Homo sapiens: one gene and its partner. The protein of the gene in region 2 interacts with the protein of the main gene of each other region in a pairwise test. Each region holds a gene or a part of one and is shown on either strand. Other genes may lie near its edges.

The links. Proteins that work in one complex are often made in the same cells at the same time.
Region 1: the proteins of HID1 (region 2) and RCN3 interact in a two-hybrid assay, tested with the Homo sapiens proteins (one large-scale study listed by BioGRID and IntAct).

Annotation. Positions count from the first base shown.
Region 1 is NC_000019.10:49,526,533-49,530,802, forward strand, and holds the start of RCN3 (reticulocalbin-3 precursor), read left to right. Parts: upstream 1-1,470; 5' UTR 1,471-1,526; exon of another isoform or gene 1,527-1,849; intron 1,850-1,934; 5' UTR 1,935-1,940; coding exon 1,941-2,182; intron 2,183-4,270. UniProt on the Homo sapiens protein: Probable molecular chaperone assisting protein biosynthesis and transport in the endoplasmic reticulum.
Region 2 is NC_000017.11:74,959,260-74,962,759, reverse strand, and holds part of HID1 (protein HID1), read left to right. Parts: intron 1-419; coding exon 420-526; intron 527-770; coding exon 771-887; intron 888-2,511; coding exon 2,512-2,734; intron 2,735-2,822; coding exon 2,823-2,879; intron 2,880-3,500. UniProt on the Homo sapiens protein: May play an important role in the development of cancers in a broad range of tissues.

The DNA.
Region 1 (4,270 bases), on a different chromosome or scaffold from region 2:
GTCCGGAGTCCTGTGGCGCGATCTCGGCTCACTGTAAGCTCCGCCTCCCTGGGTTCACGCCATTCTCCTGCCTCAGGCTCCCGAGTAGCTGGGACTACAGGCGCCTGCCACCATGCCTGGCTAATTTTTTGTATTTTTAGTACAGACGGGGTTTCACCATGTTAGCCAGGATGGTCTCGATCTCCTGACCTCATGATCCACCCGCCTCTGCCTCCCAAAGGGGTGGGATTACAAGTGTGAGCCACCGCGCCCGGCCTAAGGTCACTTTTTTTTTTTTTTTTTAAGACAGAGTTTTGCTCTTGTTGCTCAGACTGGAGTACAATTGCGTGATCTCAGCTCACTGCAACCTCCGCCTCCCAGGTTCAAGCAATTCTCCTGCCTCCCAAGTAGCTGGGATTACAGGCATGCACCACCACACCCGGCTAATTTTTTGTATTTAGTAGAGACGGGGTTTCACCATGTTGGTCAGGCTGGTCTGGAACTCCTGACCTCAGGTGATCCACCTGCCTCAGCTTCCCAAAGTTCTGGGATTACAGGCATTGAGCTACTGTGCTCAACCTGAGGTCATGTATTTTTAATTCATAACTTTTACAAATATTTACTGGATGACTGCCATGCCAGGCATTTTGAGGAATTCTTGGCTACTGTCTGACCACCTGAATCCTTGGAGCCGAAGAGGAGCGAGGAGCAGTGTTCACTCTTGGAGGAAATGGGATATTTCCTCCGGCCCCTTGATTCTGCTCTCCCTTTTCTTTTCTTTTCTTTTCTTTCTTTTTTTTTTTGAGACGGAGTTTCGCTCTTGTTGCCCAGGCTGGAATGCAATGGTGCGATCTCGGCTCACCACAACCTCCGCCTCCCAGGTTCAAGCAATTCTCCTGCCTCAGCCTCCCAAAGTAGCTGGGATTAAAGACATGCGCCACCACACCCGGCTAATTTTGTATGTTTAGTAGAGATGGGGTTTCTCCGTGTTGATCAGGCTGGTCTCGAACTCCCGACCTCAGGCGATCCGCCCGCCTCGGCCTCCCAAAGTTCTGGGATTACAGGCGTGAGCCACCGCGCCCGGCCTTTTTTCTTTTCTTTCGTTCTTTTTGTTTATTTTTGTTTTGTTTTGTTTTGTTTGGTATAGAAGTGTTGGAACGTACACCTCTTTCTTAAACCATCCTGACAAAGGGAAAGGGAAAAATACATTTCCCGTGAGGCGTTGTGACTAGAACAGCTGGAGGTGGACGGCAGAGTGCCGCGACGACTGCCAGGAGTTGTAGTTCTCCCCGGCCGCGTCACTGCGGTGTCGCCCACCCTTCTTCCCCGGGCAGGCCGCGGTTTCCTTTGTGGACGTGGCGAGGAGTGCCCGCGGCACCCCGTGCACTCATTGGCCCCGCCCCGTGAGACGCTCGTGCGAGCTCATTGGGCGGGGGGCGGGGCTCTGCGCTGCCAGAGGCGGGGCCTGACTGGAGAGCGGCCGAATTGGGCACATTTGCGGGAACGCAGAGCGGAGCGTGGAGAGCGGAGCGAAGCTGGATAACAGGGTAAAGGGAGTGGGTGGGGGGCCTCTGTCCAGGGAGGGCGGCTCGGGTCGAGGACCAGGGTCCGGACTGGGAGCAATGACGGGGAGCCTGCCTGACCTCTCGCTGGCCACAACTATGCCCTGCACCTTGCGTGGGATGTGCGCCACGTCTGTCTCTGTAATTCCCCCTGGCAGGTCTGGGACCCCCCTGAGACTCCGTCAGAAGATTCGGTCCTCCCCATAGGTGGCTTTACCTCTAAGCATCCCGCCCTCTTTTCCCCCATCGCCCGCCCTTTTTGAGCCCGAAAGCTTGCAGCCAACTTCCAACTCCCTGTCCTGTCCTAGGTAACCCCTCCACCCCGCCATTCTCCTATCCCGTGTCTGTCCCCATCCCTGTGACCCCTGACCCCTGGCCTTTGCCACTCCCCAGGGACCGATGATGTGGCGACCATCAGTTCTGCTGCTTCTGTTGCTACTGAGGCACGGGGCCCAGGGGAAGCCATCCCCAGACGCAGGCCCTCATGGCCAGGGGAGGGTGCACCAGGCGGCCCCCCTGAGCGACGCTCCCCATGATGACGCCCACGGGAACTTCCAGTACGACCATGAGGCTTTCCTGGGACGGGAAGTGGCCAAGGAATTCGACCAACTCACCCCAGAGGAAAGCCAGGCCCGTCTGGGGTAAGAGAGACATTCGGTTGGGGCGTGTCCAGAGGTGGGGCTTAGGAGAGAGACGCGGGGGTATCGACAGGGGTCAGAGAAATGGCGTGGACTGAACTTCATTTCTTTGTGAGAAATGAAATTCTACCTTCTATCCTTGGGAAAAAGAAATTAAGTTAAAATTGAGGCCTAAAGAGGACCTTTGAGACCGGGCGTGGTGGCTCATGCCTGTAATCCCAGCACTTTGGGAGGCCAAGGCAGGCCGATCACTTGAGGTCAGGAGTTCGAGAACAGCCTGGCCAACATGGTGAAATCCCGTCTCTACTAAAAATACAAAATTAGGCAGGCGTGGTGGTGGGCACCTGTAATCCCAGCTACTCGGGAGGCTGAGGCAGGAGAATCGCTTGAACCTGGGAGGTGGAGGTTGCAGTGAGCCAAAATTGCACCACTGCCCTCCAGTCAGGGCGACAAAGTGAGACTCCGTCTAAAAAACAACAACAACAATAAAAAAGAGGACCTTTGAGGGCAGCAAAATCTGGGTTAGATTCTGCCCCCTAAGCGCTCCTTATTCTTTTGTCCCAGACATCTCCCCTCCCCAAGCCTCAGTTTCCTGCTCTGTAAATGGCAGGGACTGGTGTGGAAAATGAGGTTTGGCCTTTAAGGAGCCCGGCCAGTGCAGGAGAGTGGCAGAGCCCTGAGTTTCAGGGTGAGCTGGGTGGAATGGAGCCCTGTCCACCCTCTCCGTCCAGGCCTGAGCGCAGGGGGGCGCGATGGGAGCAGCCGCCTTCTTCTGTGCATCCTCCTGACACTGATTGAGCCTGCAAAGGTTTATCGAGCACCTGCTATGTGCCAGGCACTGCTCTAGGTGCTGAAGTCACAACAGCTAACACATCTGTCCTCCTGAAGTTTACACTGTGGTGAGGGAAACAGCAAGAAGTCAATAAGTAGAAAGTGGATCAAATAGAGATAAATGCATCCAAGAAAGATAAAGCAAGAGAGTCAGAAAGTGTGGAGGGGAGAGGTTGTTGGTGGGGGGGAGTTGCAATTTTTATTTATTTATTTATTTATTTATTTACTTATTGAGATGGAGTCTCGCTCTGTCACCCAGGCTGGAGTGCAGTGGTGCGATCTCGGCTCACTGCAACCTCCACCTCCTGGGCTCAAGCAATTGTCCTGTCTCAGCCTCCCAAGTAGCTGGGATTACAGGCGCTAGCCACCACGCCCAGCTAATTTTGTATTTTTATTTTTTATTTTTATTTTTGTTGTTGTTGTTTTTGAGATGGAGTCTCGCTCTGTCACCCAGGCTGGAGTGCAGTGACGTGATCTCGGCTCAGTGGAACCTCCGCCTCCCGGGTTCAACCAGTTGTTCTGCCTCGTACTCCCTAGTAGCTAGAGTCCTAGCTACAAGTGAACGCTACAAGTCCTAGCTACAAGTGAACGCCTCCACATCCAGCAAAGTTTTTTTTCTTTCCTTTTTTTTTTTTGGAGACAGAGTGAGACTCTGTCTCCCGGGCTAGAGTGCAGTGGCGTGATCTCAGCTCATGCAACCTCTGCCTCCCAGGTTCAAGCAATTCTCCTGCCTCAGCCTTCCGAGTAGCTGGGACTATGGGTGCACGCCCACACGCCCAGCTAATTTTTTTTTTTTTTTTTGTATTTTAGTAGAGATGGGGTTTCACTGTGTTGCCCAGGCTGGTCTCGAGCTCCTGAGCTCAGGCAATCCGCCCGCCTTGGCCTCCCAAAGTGCTGGAATTAATGCGTGAGCCACAGCACCCAGCCCAGGCCCAGGTAATTTTTCTTTTTTTTCTTTTTTTTTTTTTTTTGAGACGGAGTTTTGCTCTTGTTGCCCAGGCTGGAGTGCAGTGGCGCAATCTCGGCTCACCACAACCTCCGCCTCCTGGGTTCAAGTGATTCTCCTGCCTCAGCCTTCCGAGTAGCTGGGATTACAGGCATGCACCACCATGCCCGGCTAATTTTGTATTTTTAGTAGAGATGGGGTTTCTCCATGTTGGTCAGGCTGGTATCGACCTCCTGACCTCAGGTGATCTGCCCACCTCGGCCTCCCGAAGTGCTGGGATTATAGGCATGAGCCACCGCACCCGGCTGGAGCTG
Region 2 (3,500 bases):
ATGGCTGGGCACAGACACCCATTGTCTTTGCTTGCCCAGGGGTGTGGGGCTCAGACACAGGAGGGCTGGCCCTCTTGCTTCCTGTGGTGGCATGGACTTCACCTTGAGTCTTCTCTGCCCACCCCCAAACCCGGGGCACCCAATCCCCTGCCCCTCCCTCCCTTTCTCCCTGTCCCAAACTGGACTGAGCAAGTGAAAGAACCAGTCTGAGATGGAAGAAAAATGAGCTTTCAAGAGGCCTAAGAATATTCACTCCTGCTCTTGTGCATGAGGGCCAGGCCATTTTGAGGACCTGTCTTTAGGAGAACTGGCGGTCTCTGCCCCTGGGACTGTGTGAGGCTCGAGGTGGCCAGGTTCTGACCCAGGCTGCTGTTCACCTCTCGACCCCCTAACCCGGCTTCTTCCTGGCCTGTCCCCAGGACTCGGCAGAGGACGTCCACTCCCTGGACAGCTGTGAATACATCTGGGAGGCTGGTGTGGGCTTCGCTCACTCCCCCCAGCCTAACTACATCCACGATATGAACCGGTGAGCTTCGCCCAGGCCCGGAGCCCTCAATGCAGCTGGACCCCGGGCCGGGCCCCCGCACAGCTCAGAAAGCCCATGGGGTCTTCCCAGAAGACCGTCCTCACCTATGACCCGACCTTGACCTTACAGGGGTCAACGGGAGTAACTTCCTTCCATGGACCTGGGCTGGGGCGCTGGGCTGGGTGGGCAGAACCTCCAAGAGGGGACTGGGATCCTAAGGTGCCCTCCCCCTTCCTCCTACAAGGATGGAGCTGCTGAAACTGCTGCTGACATGCTTCTCCGAGGCCATGTACCTGCCCCCAGCTCCGGAAAGTGGCAGCACCAACCCATGGGTTCAGTTCTTTTGTTCCACGGAGAACAGGTGAAGGGCCCTTGGCCTTTCTGCGCTCTCTTCCCTCTTATTCCAGGCAATCCAGAGCTGAGTCCATTCGCCAGCTCTGGGTCTCGTTTGAGGGGAGGTGCTGCCCCCTGGTGGTGATGAACTTTAACTTACCAGCCACACCTCACACTAGCCCCGTCTCTCCTTGGAGTCCTCGACAGGACAGAATCTGGGGGCCCCTCAGTAATCCGTCCCTGGGTCCTCCATCAAGAGCCGCCTGTCCAGTAGAAATAGAATGCAAACCACGAGTGCAATTTTAAAATTAAAAAAGTTAAAAAGTAAAATTGGGCCAGGCGCGGTGGCTCACACCTGTAATCCCAGCACTTTGGGAGGCCAACGTGGGCAGATTACCTGAGGTCAGGAGTTTCAGACCAGCCTGGCCAACATGGTGAAACCGTATCTCTACTAAAAATACAAAAATTAGCCAGGCTTGGTGGCGGGTGCCTGTAATCCCAGCTACTCGGGAGGCTGAGGCACGAGAATCGCTTGAACCCGGGAGGCGGAGGTTGCAGTGAGCCGAGATTGCGCCACTGCGCTCCAGCCTGGGTGACAGAGTGAGACTCTGTTTCCAAAAAAAAAAATAAATAAATACAATAATTAATAATATATTTCATATAACCCAATATACCCCAAACTTTAGCATTTAACATGGAATCAGTATACAACATTACTGAGCTGTTTGACATCCCCCTTTTCATACTAAGTTTTCAAAATCCAGTGTGTATTTGTCTTGGTTCCGATCAGCCACATTCCAAGGGCTCGACAGCTCCTTGTGGCTTGAGGCTGCTGTGTGGGACTCTGCAGCTTAGAGACCGGGTCGGGGAGTGTGTGACAAATACCTCGAAGGGCAGGGAGGCCCAGCCCACATGGGGCACTCATGGACTGTGGGGGACACGTGAGCACGGGGTGGGGGGAGGGTGTCACACGTGCCACGTGGCAGAGTTGAGTATTTGAGCAGGTAGCTCCCACTGGGAGCTGTGTTGGCTGCATAGGGTCTGTGCCCGGCAGGTGGCGGTCGACCTCCGCCTTCCAGACTCTGGTCCCTACATGACACGCCTTATTCTTCAGGTTTCCTAGCCTTCTGTTCAACCTTCCACCCTACTCCAGAAGAGAAGGGAGCCAGGCGACCCCCTCCACCAGCCACAGTCCGAGGCTGGCCAGAGTTTTCTTTCTCACCAGCCTTATCAGGCAAACTGCCACCCTTTGTCCCTCACTTAACCTCTCTGGGTCTCAGCTTCCTCATCTGTAAGCTGAGCAGCTTGAACCCTGACATCTCTTGAGTCTGAGTGGAGTCATTCTGTGGCTTGGGAGCTGGTTGGCTGAGCGTGGGCTCTGCTCCCTGAGGGGAAGCCCACCTTCTCCACAGGCCTCCATTCCCATCTCTGAGGACCCAAGGGAGGGTATCTGCCCCTTAAGACCCTAAGGGGTATGAATGTGTCCTAATCATGGCTCTGGGCTTCCCACACCCACTCTTTCCAAGCCACTCCCTGACGTGGTGCTAAAATGCTTGTTGAATGAGGCTGACCTTCCCACGTGGCCAGAGAGGTGTGGCCAGGGGGCTGGGCCCCAGTGCAGCCTCTGCAGCCTTGTCCCTCTCCTGCTGCAGACATGCCCTGCCCCTCTTCACCTCCCTCCTCAACACCGTGTGTGCCTATGACCCTGTGGGCTACGGGATCCCCTACAACCACCTGCTCTTCTCTGACTACCGGGAACCCCTGGTGGAGGAGGCTGCCCAGGTGCTCATTGTCACTTTGGACCACGACAGTGCCAGCAGTGCCAGCCCCACTGTGGACGGCACCACCACTGGCACCGCCATGGATGATGCCGATGTAAGGATGGGAGCATGGAAGGGACAGCTGCCGGGGCCACGGGTTGTGGGGAGGACGCCTGCTCACCAGGGGCTTCTCCTCTTGGCAGCCTCCAGGCCCTGAGAACCTGTTTGTGAACTACCTGTCCCGCATCCATCGTGAGGAGGCAAGTCCAGTCCCCACAGTGGCTTTGCAGGGTGCAGGGGGATGCAAGTGAGACAGGGATATGGGGGATCCTGACCCCTCCATGAAGGAACCATGCTCTCTGTGGGCTGGGGCCACCCTAGGTGAAATAGTGGCAGGACTGTGAGGGTTTCAAGATGCAGGAAGGGCTGATGGCCTCACCTGGGTAGAGGTAACTGGGAAGGCCTCTAGGAGGAGGTGGCTGATGTCATTTCAGAGGTGGTGGGGACAAAAGGGGAATGACAGTGGACAAGGGCTTCAGGCCAAGCAGTCCCAGTTCATGTGTCTTGTGATCTTGGTGGGAAGGTGCTTGAACTCCCAGAGTTCTAACTTCTGCAGCTAAAACACAGGACCCTAGCTGCCTTCTCACCCCAGCTAGTGGCAGGCCTCAGTAAATGACAGAACAGTGGAATGCTCCTCGAGTTGTGATGGGGTGATGGGGGAGTATTTTGGGGAGGGGTAGAAGGATGGAACCTGCCAACCATGAGTCCAAGGTGGGCAGGGACAAGGTTGAGGGTGTGCATGTGTGGGAGTTCACTGAGAGCAGCAGCCTTGCTCAAGGGGCGCACAGCCCAAGGACAGAGAGTCTGCAGTCTAGTGGAGG